3 separate regions of the Homo sapiens genome follow, and regions 1 and 2 are each linked to region 3. Evidence: fine-mapped expression QTL. A gene starts in region 3. Each other region holds a variant in brackets. All regions are shown on one strand. Distances are between the middles of the regions.

Region 1 (5,219 bases), 27 kb before region 3:
TGGGGGCCGCCTTGCCTGCGGCAGGGTCCCACCCACACCCAGAGCCACTGCTTGACCCCCCTTCCTGTTAACCACAGGCACCTCCTGGTCCCCTCCTCATGGCTCCCACTTCCTCCTGCCCTGCTGAGTTTCCTGGGCCACCTAGGAGTTGCGGAGGGGACAGAGGCGAGGGCACAGGAAGGGAGTGAGCTCTGACTCTGGGCTGACCACCCCTCCCCAACCCCCACTGCATAGGCTGGAGCAGGCTCTTCCTTCCATTTCTCATGTGGGGCATGAAAGACCCCTTCCACCACTGGGAGACAAGAGGTCCCATGTGGTGCCAGCCCAGAGCAGATGGGGAGGGACAGGTCAGGTTCTGCCTCTGCCTGGCCAGCCCTGTGTCCCTGAGGATGCTTGCCTCTGGACACCTGGGGAGGGGCCATGCTCTCTGACCCCACGCCAAGGCCAGCTGTTTGGCAGCATGGGGCCCAGGCCCAATGGGGGCCCCACCCAGAGCCAGTGCACATGGCCCCCCTGCCTCCGCCAGCTGCCTTCCCAGCAGTAATCCAGCCTCCAAAGTGCTCCTTACCCCCTGCCTCCCAGACGCTCGCCTTCAGGCTAGGATAAAGGGATTCTTGTAAAGAAAGGTCACTGGCGCCTCCTCAGGCCACATAGAGCCATCAGCTGGGGCCACACTTAGCTGAACCTTGGCCAGGGGCAGACACTGCCTCAGCTCTGGGAAAGGCTGAAGCTCTGAGAAGGAATCCAGCTGAGTCCTGGACTCATTCCGCATCCTTCCTGTGCCCAATTCCTCCTCTGTCCTCCTGCAGAGGCCTGGGGACCGCAGAGCTGGGGAAAAGGGCCCAGCCATGACTCCAGTGGTTGTGTGGCCTCAGCTGGCCACCTTCATCTCTCAGGCCCTGTTTGTAAATCAGGACTTGCTCTGAGTCAGGGAGATGATGTCCCAGGCCCACAGGAGGCCCTGGGGAAGGCGCCTGCAGAGGTGAGTGTGAGCCCAGACCCAGCCCCCTCCACGCCTATGTGGCTTCCTCACCCACAGCCCAGAGTGACAGGGCTGGGCCGCGCTGCATGGGGGCAGAGAGGAGGCTCTGGCCACTGGGGTGCTCCATCAATTGGCAGGGGCCAGAAAAGCAGGAACTCCGCAGCCAGCCTTCAGCAGTAACATCCGGCACAGATGCTTCTGCCTAAACCAGATAGATTCTCGTTCAAGACTGTGGAGGGGAAATGCTCTAAAATCACAAGGATAAAGGAACATAAGCCCAAATGCTTGGCTCTTCGCACATGGGATGGAGAGGTCAGTGGGTCCCAAGGAAGGACAGCAGCCATCAGTTAAAGGACAGCAGCCATCATGTCAACACCATACGTTTGCATTCCAGAAACTTGCTAAGGTCAATGCAAGTGACCATGAAGATCCTGCTGTGAGGAAACCACGCAGGCCTCCTGAGTCACCCCAGGGAGACCACCACAGCAACAGATGCACTCCCTGAGAGCAGACAGCAGCATAAGAGACCAGGCTGCTGTGTCTGGGTGGACCGAATGCCTAGTGCTAATGTGGGCAGCCTGACCACCCCTGCAGGAGCAGCAGCCTCTTCAGAGAGCCGTGGCATGCACTTCAGCTGTGGCAGCTGGGCCCTGGGGGGCTTGGGACATGCGCTTTCCCAGGACATCTGCTGCACTGATGGACCTTAAAGCCCCCAGGTCCTCCTGGATGTTCTGTCCCATCTGATATGATTCTCGGAATGCTCGCAAGGTGCGGGGAGCAGGGGAGCAGGGGTCATCATCACATTTTAAAGATGCAGTGGGCCGGGTGTACTGCACCTGGGATTACAAGCCTGTAATCCCAACACTTTGGGAGCCTGAGGCGGGTGGATCGCTTGAGCCTAGGAGATCGAGATCAGCCTGGGCAACATAGCGAGACCCTGTCTCTACAAACATAAAAACAGCCGGTTGTGGTGGCACATGCCTGTGGTCCCAGTTACTCAGGAGGCTGAGGTGGGAGGATTGCTTGAGCCTGGGAGGTCGAGGCTGCTATGAGCCATGGTCATGCCACTGCACTCAGCCTGGGTGAC[A/G]AAGTGACACCCTCATCACACACAAACACACTGGGACCCCAAGAGGGGAAACGGCCCATCTAAGGTCTCGTGGGCCAGGCTGCGCCTGGGATCCCCTCAAAGGAGCACAGCTGAAGCCCCAAATCCCCTTTGCACTTTGGAGATAGCTGTGGAGCTGAGGGGGAGGCCAGGCCTCCCTCTGGGGAGACATTTATCAGAGGCAGCTGTGGAGTGGTTGAACCTCAAGAGGGGCACAGGAAGTGGCCTGCACTGCTGAGGACGCAGCATCGAGCCATGCCTGCGTGTTCTCCGGGCTGCCTCAGCCAAGTCCTGTGCCTGTGGGCCCGGCCAGGCCAGCCCGTCCCCGGCCCTGTCCACCTGTCCTCCTGATGGACACCAGGCCCACTGAAGGCTCAGAGCAGCTACTGGGTCAGCTGGCCTTGGTACCCCGACCCCACACCCCTGTAGTCGATCACTCCACCAGCCCTAAGAAGCCCTGGCATGGGGGCGGGCTGGGCGTGGTCCCTGAGGCAGGCCTGGCCCCACCACCTCCCAGCTAGACCCACCACCTCCCAGCTAGACCCACCCCACCTGTCCCAACTGAAAGGAGACTCCGATTTTCAGATGCTAGCTGCAGCCAGGTGGCAGCAGGGGTCAGCCGGGGAGGGAGGGGTAAGGGAGTGGGGGCCGTCACTTGGAGGCAGTGCAGCTGGAGGCAGGGGCCTGCTGGGATTGTGGACGCAATCTCAAACCCGCCACGCTGAGCCTCAGCATTCACACTGGAAATAAGACATGAACCTGGGCCCCCAGTGGAGCCTGGACACTCACTTCCAGAAAAGACGCTCGCCTGCCGTGCTGTGGGGCTGGCCTCTGTCCTGAATGCCCTCAGGCACACCTGGGGCCTCTTCTGGGTGGTGCCAGTGCCCCCTTGCCTGGCCCTCCTGGTGAGGCTCCTGGGCTTGGTGTGCCACCCCCAGTGGACGGCCCTGCAGGCCGCTGCCTACCCAGGTGGGGGACCAAGGGAGAAGCAGCTGGGCTGTGGCCGCCTAGGGACACGCGGCTGAGAAGCTGAGCACGTGGCTGTGTCTCCTCATCTGGCCCCAGCCTGCTCATCCTCCTAATTCCAGGGCAGCCTGGAGCCAGGCGTGTGGGCAAAAACTCCAACAAGAAGACCAGAGCAAAACAAAGAGGACGCGGCTGCTGTGGGCCAAGACTGAGGTCCGTCTCCGCCCTCCAGGGGCACCTGAGCTCCAAGGGCAGGGACCGGGTGATGGGTCTTCGCTGACACCGAGTGGGGATCCTGGGGTGCGAGCAGGCCCACACTCTCCCCCAAAACCCTCCAGCCTCAGTCTCCCCCACTGCCCACCCACACACCACCACAGCTGTTCCCGTTCAGGGGACCCTGGGGTGACCATGAGGCAGTGGGCCTGAGAGCCAGGGAGGTGGAAGCTTCCAGCCCTGGAGGAGCAGGTGGCCACCGGCCAGCTGAGTGAGCGGAGACCAGGAGGCTGTGCGGGACGGGTGGCCCCGGGGCTGGGGCCGTGGCCAAGCCTGCTGGGGTCTGCCAGGGGCATCAGCTCTGAAGGTGCTGGCTGTGCTGTTGCCAGTGCTCTGTGGGGCCACGAGCAACCTGCCAGGATGATGGGGGAAGGAAGAGCCACCAGGCTGGGGCAGAGGTGGAGACAGACCCCAGTGATGGAGTTGAGCCCATTCTGGGAAAGGCAGGGAGGAGTGGCCTCCAGTGAGCTGGGGAAAGCCAGTGAGCAGGGGGCTTTAATCACCAGCCCAGGCACCCAGCCCTGCCCGCAGGAGTTTGGGGGCAGGATGGGGGTGGCAGGCCTTCCCCTGGCCTCTGGACAAGCCCCCGCCCCAGGGAGGCCTTGCTGCCTTGCTCTATGGGGAGGAGTCACTTCCAGAGGGCACATCCAGCCTCCCCTCCTCTCTCTCTGTCTCTCGGCTTCCCTCTCTGGGCTCCTGGACCCTGGGTCCAAGTGCTGCTTCCCCCGGCCTCTCTTCCTTCAGGCAGCCAGCCTTCCCTGCTGGAGTCCCCGAGGCCCAGCCACGCGCCCTGAAGGAGCACAAGCTCCTAGGGTGCGTTTACTCGCAGAGGCTGAAGCTGGTGGTGGGGTGGGGCGCTCACAGCCTGGCCTGTGGTTGGCCAAGGACACCAACAGGAGCTCTTCCCTGCAGCTCCTGGCAGGCCTGCAGAGGTGCCCCCCCTGCTCTGAGAAGCCAGCCTCACAAGATCATTCATCGCAAGCTCTGGGCCCACTGCTCGGCTGTGCAGCCTGGGAGGGGGGTGTGCAGTGGTCCGCCAAGCAGCACCTCTGCCAAGGAGCTCCCTCTGCAGAGGAGAACCCGGCCAAGGTCCCCCAAATTGCAGCCACCATCTCGGGCTGTATTAACAGAGGTTGAGTCCTCAGAAGGAGGGAGGGGATAATTGCAGTGGTGTCTCCCTGGCCAGGCTGCTGAGTTCAGCTCTGGAAGGGGCAGCCCACAGCAATGCTCTCTGTGAAGGGCCAGCATGGTGCCACCCAGGAGTGACACACACAGCCAAGCTCTCCCCTGTATCCCTCAGGTGCTGGACAGGCAGGGTAGGGCTCACAGCCAAGCTAGGACACCCTTCCCAGGGCCAAGGCAGCCCAGGAAAAGCCAGCACAGCGTGTCCTCCTGAGAGGCCTGTGTGGACACTCAGGGGTCCCAGTCTGAGGGGGAACACAAGGCCTTGACCTGGTAGCCCACTTTCAACACTCCGTGAGCACGCAGGGCCTCCCCCAGCAGAGAGGGGCACCGAGGGAAGCCAGGACCCCAGGCAGTGCCCTCTGTCCACCCAAGTACATGCTGCCCCACCAGTGGACAGGCATCGTCGTCCCGGCTCCCCTCTGTCCCCCAGCTCACATTACCCAGGACTGGCTGTAGGAGCCTTGTTTCCAAGACCAGAGAGGTCATAAGGTCACCTGCTGCCCACACGTCCCATCCTAGTCCTCCTTGGGGTATGTGGGTACCTGGGGCGGCCCCTCATGTCCAGGAGCTGAGGCTGCCCCTGGGTGTATCAAGGTGAGGTGCCTACCCCACCCCTACCCGCCCATGCAGAGCTGCAGCTGGTGCTCTGGTCAGCCCATGGGTGTGACAGCCCAGGGGGCCCTGGGGCCAGGTGACCACCTCAGAGCC
Region 2 (5,219 bases), 52 kb before region 3:
ACCTGCCTTATCTGATGGTTGGTTATCCACCTCACCCAGGAGCACAGAGGCTGTGGGCTGCCCTGGCCATCCCCGGGCCTGCATGGGACCTGGCACATAGTGGGGCACTCAGGATGGCCCAGGAAGGAGCATGGATGTGGCATCTGACCACCAGGGGTGATGTGGCACCGAGACTCCAACCTGAGAGGCACCGGAGCCCCGTGGTCAAGGCCAGACTGCTTTAGGTCTGCACCACCGGCGGGATGGGAGCCCTTCACCCCACTGCTCTGGGAGGCATCACCCTGGGGTTAGAGGAGGTGGAGCAACCGCATTTACCCAGAGCAGCCACTGGAGGGCGAGGTGGGGTAGGGCCCCAACCTCAGGTTAGAGGGAGGAACGGCCAAGAGGGAATCCCTCCAGGTGGAGGATCATCGCAGTCACAGCTGCCTGAGCGGCCACTCAGGGAACAGCAACAGCGTGCAATGCATTTGGGAGTCAGGGAAATTCTCGTTCTAGCACTTTCTTGCTGGCAGTTTGCCTGTGCCTCAGTTTCCTGACCTGTCTAATGTGGATGATAACAGTAGAACCTGTTGTTTCAATGGTGCCTGGTGTGAAAGGAAAATCTTGGGCCCCTCAAATCACTAAGCTAAAGGGAAAAACCCAAGCTGGGAACTGCTTAGGGCCAACCTGCCTCCCATTCTATTCCAAGTCACCCCTCTGCTCACTGAGATAAATGCATATCTCATTGTCTCCTTTGGAGAAGCTCATCAGAAACTCAAAAAAATGCAACCATCTTTCTCTTATCTACCTATGACCTGGAAGCCCCTCCCCGCTTGAAGTTGTCCCGCCTTTCCAGACCAAACCAATGTTCATCTTACATATGTTGGTTAATGTCTCATGTCTCCCTAAAACCAAACTGTGCTCTGACCACCCTGGGCACATCGTCAGGACCTCCTGAGGCTGTGTCACAGGTAGGCGTCTTCAACCTTGGCAAAATAAACTTTCTAAATTAACTGAGACCTGTCTCAGATTTTCAGGGTTCAAACATTTTGGTAACCACTGAAGGATTCTGAGTGGAGATGCCCCTGACTTTTCACAAGTCTCCTATTGGTGCTTGGTACCAGCTTGAGCTAACTTTATGGCTCAAACCAATAAGACAATTTGCTGAGGCCTGGAAGCACCTCCCCCCGTGCCCCACCCCCACCCCCTGCCACAGAGAATCCCTGATCTCTCAAAATTTGGTCGAGATCTAAAGTTTATTTTGTTTTACAACTTCTCTTTTTGGAGTTTTACTTGCTTCCGATACAAGGAAGGCAAGTTTTCCCTGCTTCCATGACGATGGAAGGCAGGTAACTCCTTTATGGAGTTCGAGCTTGCTTCCAACAGGGAAGATGAATTTTTTTTTTTTCCTGCTCCCAGGATGGTGGAGATCTGAGTTTTCAGCCTGAGACCCATCCCTAGGGAAGTAACTGAATTGTGGTTTGTCTTAGCTAAAGTTAAGATTAACAACCAGCTGGTCTTAATTTCTCCTTACCATTAGAGCACTCAGTGATCACGTAAGTTGTGCGATTGTTTGTTTCGCTTAACTGTTTTTTTGTTGTTGATTGTTTCTGTTTTTGTTGTTTTGGTCTTTTTCCCATTGACCTCTATCTGGCTTGATCAAATCTGAAGGAAGTTCCAAATTATGGGGAACAAGGCCTCTGAAGTGGCTGAATTCCCCTCCCCACCCCCACACACAATGGTGGCGTGATGGGGGGAGAAAAACGGCCAGCAAAAGGAAAAAAAAAAGAGGAAAGATTTTGATTTTGACTACTAAGGGGCTTTATTCATATAACAAGGCCACATTTTCACTAGCTAGGCCAAACTGAAAGAGTAATGACTGTACTTCTGTGTCCTCGTTGAAATTTGTCCTAGTTGAAATATGGAATGAGATTTAAAAAGATTTTTTCAAAGAAGCTCAATGGTTAAAAGTCAGTTTAATGAAAAGCTAACATCCAAGCTGTGTGTGTGTGTGTGCATATGTGTGCGCGCATGTGTGTGCATGTGTGTGTGTGTGCGCGCATGTGTGTGCATGTGTGTGTATGTGTGCGCGCATGTGTGTGCATGTGTATGTGTGTGTGCATGTGTGTGTGCATGTGTGTGTGCATATGTGTGTGTGCATGTGTGTG[T/C]GTGCGCATATGTGTGTGTTTGTATTTAAGAGACCTTCATGTTTCTGTTTTTGTTTTTCTCCTAGGACCTTGTCTTTTTTTGAGCAAAAGGGTTTTTTCTTCTCAGTTGACTGAATTCTGTTTCTTGATTTACTTCTGCTGTCTCTCCTTTCTCTTGCACCTTCTGCCGCATGGGGGACCTAAAATAGTTTATAGTAGCCTGGGGTTCCTTAAAGAAAATGGAGAGGGTGCCAGACTCCCCTTGGGGGAGAAACTTGTTTTTTCTTATGAAACCCCAAGAATGTAAACAGACAAGTTTGTCTCAGCTCTTAAACTGCTTACTTTTGTATTGTGTAACCTGTTTTGTGTTTTCTTTTCTTTTTTTTTTTTTTTTTGACTAAAGTAGTTATTGCAACAGTGGTTACTCTTGGGCTTTTAAGGAAGAGTGTGGTTTAGACACTTAGAAATGTCTTTGTTTAAAAAAAATTTGTAAGTGCACTATAAAAGCATCACGTGGTCTAACCTCATGATAATTCTCCCTTTCTGGAGACCTAGGATTCAGTGTGGGCTCTTCCCAGAGCTCAGAGATCCAGTTAAATGATAGGTAGTCCCTACTACATAAAATTGGTCTCCTTATGCAATCCTATGATAGATTTCTATAATTTTGTTTGATTTGGCATCCATCTTTAGTCTCCCTCTAGCACCACCAGACTTTTTCTCTCTGTACCTTATGCAAATTTTGCTATTTGATTTTCACCTGAGTTGTTTCCCTTAATATGCAAATTTAAGGCTATTTAGCTGACAATTGCCTAGGGTTGTGAAACAGGTTATCAAGAATCTGAAAGTCTAAGACAGGAAAAAAAAATTTTTATAAACCTATGAGATGTACTTCTATTGCCATGCCTAATATGTCTATGTATTTATGTGTCGTGTACACAATGTTTCACTACTGAAAATATATAAAAGGGCTCTAATTGATTGGCTTAAGAAAGTAAATGCACTTGAATCAAATACTTGATCAGGAAAAAAGAAAAGACAAGTCAAATGCTTTTTCAAGTTTATGTAACTTAAATAAAATCTTTAATAAATAAGCTAGCTTTAAAATTATTGGTAAAGTAATATTAGAAATGTCTTAAGAATTGCCAGCATATATTTTTGTTTGCATTTATTAATCAAGCAATTTCATACTTATCCCTGCCAAATACCATGAGGTGTCAAAATTTGGCATAGGAGTTACGAAACTATAAACCCAGCCCAAGACAGAATGATCTTTGCTTGTGTAATCTTTAATAATGCCTGTAATCTCAGCACTTTGGGAGGCTGAGGTGGGTGGATCACAAAGTCAGGAGTTCAAGACCAGTCTGGCCAACATAGTGAAACCCCATCTCTACTAAAAATACAAAAATTAGCCAGGTGTGTTGGCAGGCACCTGTAATCCCAGCTACTCGTGAGGCTGAGGCAGGAGAATTGCTTGACCTGGGAGGCAGAGGTAACAGTGAGCCAAGATCGCACCACTGCACTCCAGCCTGGGAGACTAGAGCAAGACTCCGTCTCAAAAAAAAAAAAATTTATATTGGTTTAATAAAAATAGCTACATCTTAAATTTAGTAAGATTACCATAACTTCTAATCTGGTGGCTTTAGGTAGTCTAGTCCACAGGCAGTAAGGTTCATTTTGAGAAAGACTGTTATAGTCTTTGTTTCAGGTAAACTATAAACTAAGTTCCTCCCAAAGTTAGTTTGACCTATGCCCAGGAATGAACAAGGATAGCTTGAAGGTTAGAAACAAGATGGAGTCAGTTAGGTCAAATCTCTTTCACTGTCTCAGTTATAATTTTGCAATGGTGTTTCCATAATTTAAATAATGACAATTGCAGTTTTTATAAATAATCTAGGTAAATGATTAAAATAATTAGGTAAATGTAATAGGACAAATACTTGTAGACAAATTCATCATAATTTAGAATTTAAAGTTAGATTAAATAAGATATTTCACTATTTGGATATTTTCCAATAAAAATATATTTGTAGGAAAATATGCTTTCTAAAAGAAAGCATGTCCTTTTGAAAAAGGTGAACAATTTTTGCCTAATTCAAAGCTTATTTAAAGATCATGTATAAAACAAGGTAAAAGGAACCAGGAAATAAAAGAGTAAAAGAGATGTAAAGAAAGTTATAAAAAAGTGTTTTTTGGTGGAGAGTAAGAAAGCTTAAAGAGAAATAATTTCATATGAGAAAGAATCTTGTATGGTAAATTTAGTCCTAGAGTAAAATGACTGGTTGTTTAAGAAAGAGGGATGTTCAGGACAAACCAGAAAGTCCAAGCGTGGCATGAATGGTCTATGGAAGTCACAATAAGAGGATCTATTAAAAAAAAACCCTTTTATATGATCAAGTTGTCTATGACTAAAGGGAAATTATAATGGTCTTTCTAGAGATTGGGTTTGATGTAAAAAAACAGTTATAGACTAAAGAATTGGTTAGAACAATGATTTTTTTTTTTTTTTTTTTTTTTTTTAGACAGAGTCTCGCTCTGTTGCCCAGGCTGGAGTGCAGTGGCGTGATCTTGGCTCACTGCAAGCTCCACCTCCTGGGTTCACGCCATTCTCCTGCCCCAGCCTCCTGAGTAGCTGGGACTACAGGCGCCCGCCACCACGCCTGGCTAATTTTTTTTTGTATTTTTAGTAGAGATGGGGTTTCACCATGTTAGCCAGGATGGTCTTGATCTCCTGACTTCGTGATCCTCCTGCCTCGGCCTCCCAAAAGTGCTGGGATTACAGGCATGAGCCACCGCACCTGGCCGACATTTTCTTAAGAGGTTGATTTACTCTTAATCAATTATAAGATATTTTAATTTTTTAATTTTAACCCAAAGTTCAACTTTCATTGCATCTTGCCAGTTTCAGTTTTCTCTTCCCTCTTAAAAGGAACAAAATAGTAACACTTCCCTTCAACTCATTTTCAGCTCATATAAGTTTTGTTTTCCTCCTCAGGTTCTGTTTTTTTGTGTGTGTGTGGCCTGATGCTAACAATGTTTTCTTAAAGAAAATGTTTTCTTCTAACATAATATTCTATACACTGCAGAAGGTATTTG
Region 3 (5,219 bases):
GGTAGGGCCAGGAGGGGAGTGGAGGCCAGCCCTGGAGGGAGTAGCCGGATGTGAGGTGGGCTGGGAGGCCGAGCAAAGCATTTGCTCTCAGCCTGGGTGGCTCTGAGATTTGCAACAAAGGCCCTCTAGGAATTCTGGATCCCTCTAAGCCAGCCAAGAAGGCTCATGTCCCACCCCCTCCCCATCTCCCACCTCAAGCCCTGGTCCTGAGGACACAGCTGGTGCCCACTCCGCTTAGTGTAGATGCCAGCACAAGGCAATCTCACATCCTCGTGGACATGATCCCAGAGGCCCTGGCTCAGAACAACTGTGATGCTAAGAGAACAACGCGGTCCTTAGTCCAAGTCCTTTGTACTCGACCGCCAACCCTACCACTCTCCGGAGCAGCTTCACTATCTGCCCATACATCTCCACGGGAAAGGTTACCCAGCCGTGGCCAAGACCCAGCCACCAAGGCCCCAAAACCTTTAAAAATCTTGACCAGCCCAGGAGCCCCATCCTCAGGCTGTCAGTTGCCTCCTCAAGCTGCAGGCTCGGTAAGTCATCAAGCAAAGCTGGCATCGAGAACAATATTCTTTTCCTTTGTGCCGGTCACAAGCAGCATGAGGACATCCAGGGCAGCATGCCTGTCCCTGTCGGGAGGCCAGTGGCCCTCACTTGTACCCCCCAACATCTACCCCCCAGCACACTGGTGCACTCCCTGGGCTCCCCTGCCAACCCTGCAAGTGGTGGGCACTTCTACCCACCTGGCCCTTGGACTCCACAAGGGGAGCTGCACCTAACGGCTCCCTCCCCGACAGCTCCCTTCCTGTCAAAATGACCGGGATCCTTTTGGCACTGTGCAACCCTGGGCCTCGGCCCCTCTACAACCCCCTGTCCCGGAGGTCAGAGCTTCCAGCTCCCCAGGCCTCTCCGGGAGAACCCTGAGCTGGGTCCACAACATTTCTCAGCTGCGGTCACAGGCTCAGATTCACCTGTCCCTTGAACAATAAATGGGAATGGGGGCGGGGGGCACCTTCTGTCATCTTGGGTAAGTTTTCCACCTGCACACTGTGCCTGTATGTGTGCAAACGTGTGCAGGCTTAACCACAGAATCAGCAGAGAGCACCAGTCCCCAAAACACAGCTGGCAGAGACACACACAGCCCTTCCACCCGCCGGCTTGTCACAGAGTGTTTCTCCCTCCCCCAAGCGTTACATGTCAGATTACTATCAGCGCTCAGAGTGAGGCCAGGATCTCAGGAGAGAAACTGATACCAGGCATTCTCAGCATAGTAAATACAATCCTGGGTAGGGGTTGGGTGGGGGGGGCGGTCTTGCGTTGGTATTCTGTAAAGAGCTGAAAGCAGTCCTTTGAAGAACATGGCCTATTCATGGCCCAATCTGGACCCAGAAAGGAGCCTCCACTGGACATGCAGGATGGCTGCCCGGGGTTCGACATCTGCAGGGCAGCCTCTCTGAGACCAGGCCCAGGACTGCAGGTCAGAGGCTCCTCATCCGGCCTATCTGCTGTGTCACCTTTCTTAAACACAGCCTGGCAAGACAGACACACGCGGTGCCTGCCTCCTGGCACCCCAGGCCAGCCCCACACGCGTGCAGGCAGACAATAGGATCTGCAGTTCTGGAGCCTGAGACCAGAAGGGAGCAGCTGGGCACATGATGCCACCCCAGGTTGCCACAAACCTGCCCGATGCCTGCAAAGCCCCCACTCACCTGGCAGGTTCAAGGAACAGCAAGGCCCTGTGTACCAAGGAGGTGGGATAAAAACGTGCAGAGGGGCCTTACTCCTGGGGTTGGGGAGCAGAGTTTCTGTTCAGTCTGGGATCTGGATCAGCCCTGGTGCAGGCAGACCCAAGAGCATCTATCTAGGATCCCAAAGGCTGGCCCACTTCTCCAGGCTTTGGGAGGCTGTATCAGGTGGGGTGGGACCCTTACAGAAGTCTTCCTGTAAAAGGCACCTTGAAGAGACTGGGGCAGACACACAGAGGGGAGCAAGTTGCGAAACGGCAAGAGAGGAAATCCACCCAGCCGCTTCGGCGGGGCAGACCCGCTCAGCCCAAGGATGAGGGAGGGGCTGGGCTCAGCCCAGGGACGAGGGAGGGGCAGGTAAGCCCACCCTGTGACCCCTCCATACCCCCAGGAGTCACCCCAAACCCTAACTCCAGTTGGCTTCTGACAGGAGGCAGCCCAGCGGTCTGGGTGGGGGTTGGGGGCGGTGCCTGGGAAGCCCAGGACGGGCCTGTTGCCCGGGGGGCTGCAGACTCCAGCCTCCTTCCTGCCTGCCCCACCCTCCTGCACCCCGCTCCCCGGGAGGAATCTTCAAGTGCACAAGACCCTCTTGAGGACTCAGGCACCTCAACAATCCCTAAGGCTCCACATCTTCAGGGGGTCAGTGCCCCAGAGATGGGGGCTGTGGGCAAGGTCCTTCCCTAGCCTGTAATCCAGGCAGCCCCCTGACTCTGCGGACTCAGACACAGCAGTCCTCCCAAGCCCGCAGCTGGGACGCCAGACTCAGATCCCAGACCCCCTGCAGACCCATCAAGACCTGGCTCCTTGGAGCCCGCGTCGGCCGAGCTGGGGGGACAGACCCCCTGATTGGCCAGGGTTTGTGGTGGTCAGACCCAGCCACCTTCCCTGGCGGTCCCGGCTCCTTTAAGCCCCACCAAGTGGGGAGCCGAGCTGGGCGCGCCGCTTCCCACTCGCGGGCCCCACCCGCCCCAACCCGCCAGGCGCCGACCCGTCCTGGCCCGGGGCGCCCCCAGGCTCCCGCGCTCCCCAGCTCCCCAGCGCGCGACCGGCCCCGCGGCGTGGTTCCCCGCACTGGCTACTGCCAGGGTCCGCGGGGCTGCGGCGCGAGCTCCTGGATCCCTTCGGCCGGCCCCCCGCGGCCCTCGGTTCGCTCCGGCCCTGCCCGGCGGGGCCCTCCGGATCCTTCCCAGCCCGCCATCCCCCCGCCGCCCTGCCGCCCCCCGGGCCGCCGCGCTCCTACCTCCTACCGTGCCGCGAGCTCGGTGCTCCGGGCCGGCCGGGCGCGCGGGGGCTCCACTGGCGGCGCGGGCCTGGCTGCAGGAAATGCCAGCAGATGGTCCCCCCGCGCGAGGCGGAGCGAGGGCGCGGCGGAGGGAGGAGGCCCAGGGAGCCCGGAGGCGGGAGGAGGAGGCGCGGCGGCCGCAAAACCCGGGCCGAATCGCCGCGCGGAGCGGGCGCCCAGGGGCTGCCCCCCACCGGCTGCCGCTTCTCCTCATCCCCCAACCCCCCGCGCGCGCTCCGGGGCTCACACCCACCCGGGCGGCCAGAGGTCGGGACACTCCGCTGAAAATGGCCAGGAGGCTTGGCGGGGTGGGCAGCGGTGAGTGGGGTCAGCTTCGTGGGGTTCTCCAACTTAGGGGTGCAGGCCCCCAGCCCACCCTAGCCAGGGTGCGAGGCGCCTCCTCTCCCTTCCTGAACCCAGGAAACTGTCGCCGTTTCTCCCCGTCTCAGGAGCCATCAGAACACAAGAGGAGCCCCAGACATCTGAGCCCGTTGTCCCTGCCCCTTATGTGCTAAGAAGGACCCTCAGTCACACTCTAACTGTACGTCTTTCTCAGGACCCTTTTGACAAGAACCTCCCCTCATGTGCATTTCTTCCTGTGTTTTCTCCTCACCTTCTTCTACCCCCCAGAGACCTTTTTAGACCCCTCAGTTCTCTTGTATATAAAAGACATTCTAATTCCCCTAAACAGCATCCCCTTGGGAGCTGAGAAGTCCTCCCCTGGCCCCTGGCTCCCTGCCTGTAGACCCTAAATTGGGTGTGGGCCCAGGGCTGGCCCCAGGGCGTTTGCATCCCTAGTGTCCAAGCCTGAGGTGCACTGCAGGTCCTTCCTATGGTATGTCCCCAAATGACCAGAAAAACTGGGAGCTGGGCTCGGGCATCCCCAGATGTAGGTAGACCCCAAGAGGGCGTGGAGTCTTTTCCACACAGAACCTTAACAGGGACAGAACTGACCCTCCGCAGAGAGCCCTGGGCTCCTCCCCAGGCAGAACTGCCACTGACACGTGTGTTTCTACGGTTTCACGCTGCAGTTGCATTCGGGAGGCCGCAAGCCTGGCTATCATGGGCGTCTGCAAGACCTCCCAGCAGGGCTGCGGAGGGCGAGCGGCCCAGGAAGGCTCCTTCCAGCACCTGAAGGGGGAACGGCACAGCATGCAGGTGCTCTGCCCACAACAAGCCAGACCCCTTCCCGTCTCAGCCCTGGCCTTGCCCACCCCGTTAGACAAGTTGGTGGGTATCCTCCTGGGGATAGCAGCACCAGCCGCTTGTGTGCGGATCACAGGAACCCACGGCTTACGGAGGCGAGTGGGCTGATCGGACTTGCCCTAAGCTTACCCCCAGGGCTAGCATTGCCATTCCATAGTCACCTTGTGAGGCCTTGGGATGCAGAACTGCTCAGTCAAGATGCTCAGGGCCATGGTGGGACCCTGCTCCGCGTGGCCTGTGGCAGGCGGCCTCTGCCTCTGCAGGAGAGGGTCTGTGCAGCTGGGATCCACATACAACTGCTGGGTCTGCTCTTTGAAGACTCCGCCCAAAGCTGAGGTGCTGCTGCCTGGTAACTTGCTGGTTGCTGGAGCCAATCCAAAGGGAATTAGGGAAGAAAACAAAGCCCCTATCCCTAGGGCGGAGGTCTCAGGGGCGGCAGTAGGGAAGGTTGCCAGTTGCTTGATGCTGGCTGTCCAGGGCCTGGGTTTCATGAAATGACACTGCTGAGGGCAGAGGTCAAAAGTCAAAGAGGCACCTGAGGGTGGGGGAAGGGGCCATAGATGACAGCAGGGTGGGGCTGGGGTGGAGCAGGACGAGGGTTGAGCCTCTCACTGGGTAGTGTCTGACAGCCAGATGGCCATGCAAGAAATGAAGAACACGCCACCTGCCAGGCTCAGTGACAGGTGTCAGTTGTCTGCCCCACTTCCCAGCAGGCTCTGCATTTTTCCAGAAAGCCCCATTTCCAGCCTCTTGCCTGGTTTTGGAGAGGCAGTGAGCCGAAGAGGTTGCCCCCAGCAAGAGGTAGGTCCGAATCCTGCTGCTGCCAGAAAGAAGCTCTGTCACCAGGCAGTGGCTTGTTCCTCCTGGGACCCCGCTTCCTCTCCTGTCAGATGGACACAGCATCTGTGCCTGGTGGCCAACGCAGGAAATGAAGGCGTCAGAGGTCTCAGAGATGGGCAGAGCCAGGTGCCAATGGCACCAGC

Evidence for each region. PIP is the estimated chance that this variant, and not a neighbour inherited with it, causes the effect.
Region 1: its variant is the best candidate, but not a certain one, in a credible set for the expression of OSBPL5 in whole blood (TOPMed, PIP 0.52).
Region 2: its variant is the best candidate, but not a certain one, in a credible set for the expression of OSBPL5 in whole blood (INTERVAL, PIP 0.84).

What each region holds. Positions count from the first base shown.
Region 1 is chr11:3,135,721-3,140,939 of GRCh38, forward strand. The region is part of intron 1 of OSBPL5 (oxysterol binding protein like 5); the gene reads right to left. Among named protein-coding and RNA genes, the nearest start is that of OSBPL5, 27 kb to the right of the region's middle. RefSeq lists enhancers at 1-603, 604-1,211. The variant A/G (reference allele first, on the strand shown) is at 2,070.
Region 2 is chr11:3,109,975-3,115,193 of GRCh38, forward strand. All of the region lies in intron 7 of OSBPL5 (oxysterol binding protein like 5), which reads right to left. Among named protein-coding and RNA genes, the nearest start is that of OSBPL5, 53 kb to the right of the region's middle. RefSeq lists a silencer at 201-260. The variant T/C (reference allele first, on the strand shown) is at 2,148.
Region 3 is chr11:3,162,228-3,167,446 of GRCh38, forward strand. It overlaps OSBPL5 (oxysterol binding protein like 5), which reads right to left and starts at 3,083. Exons shown (of 22, transcript NM_020896.4): 1 at 2,989-3,083. RefSeq lists enhancers at 1,128-1,821, 3,565-4,277.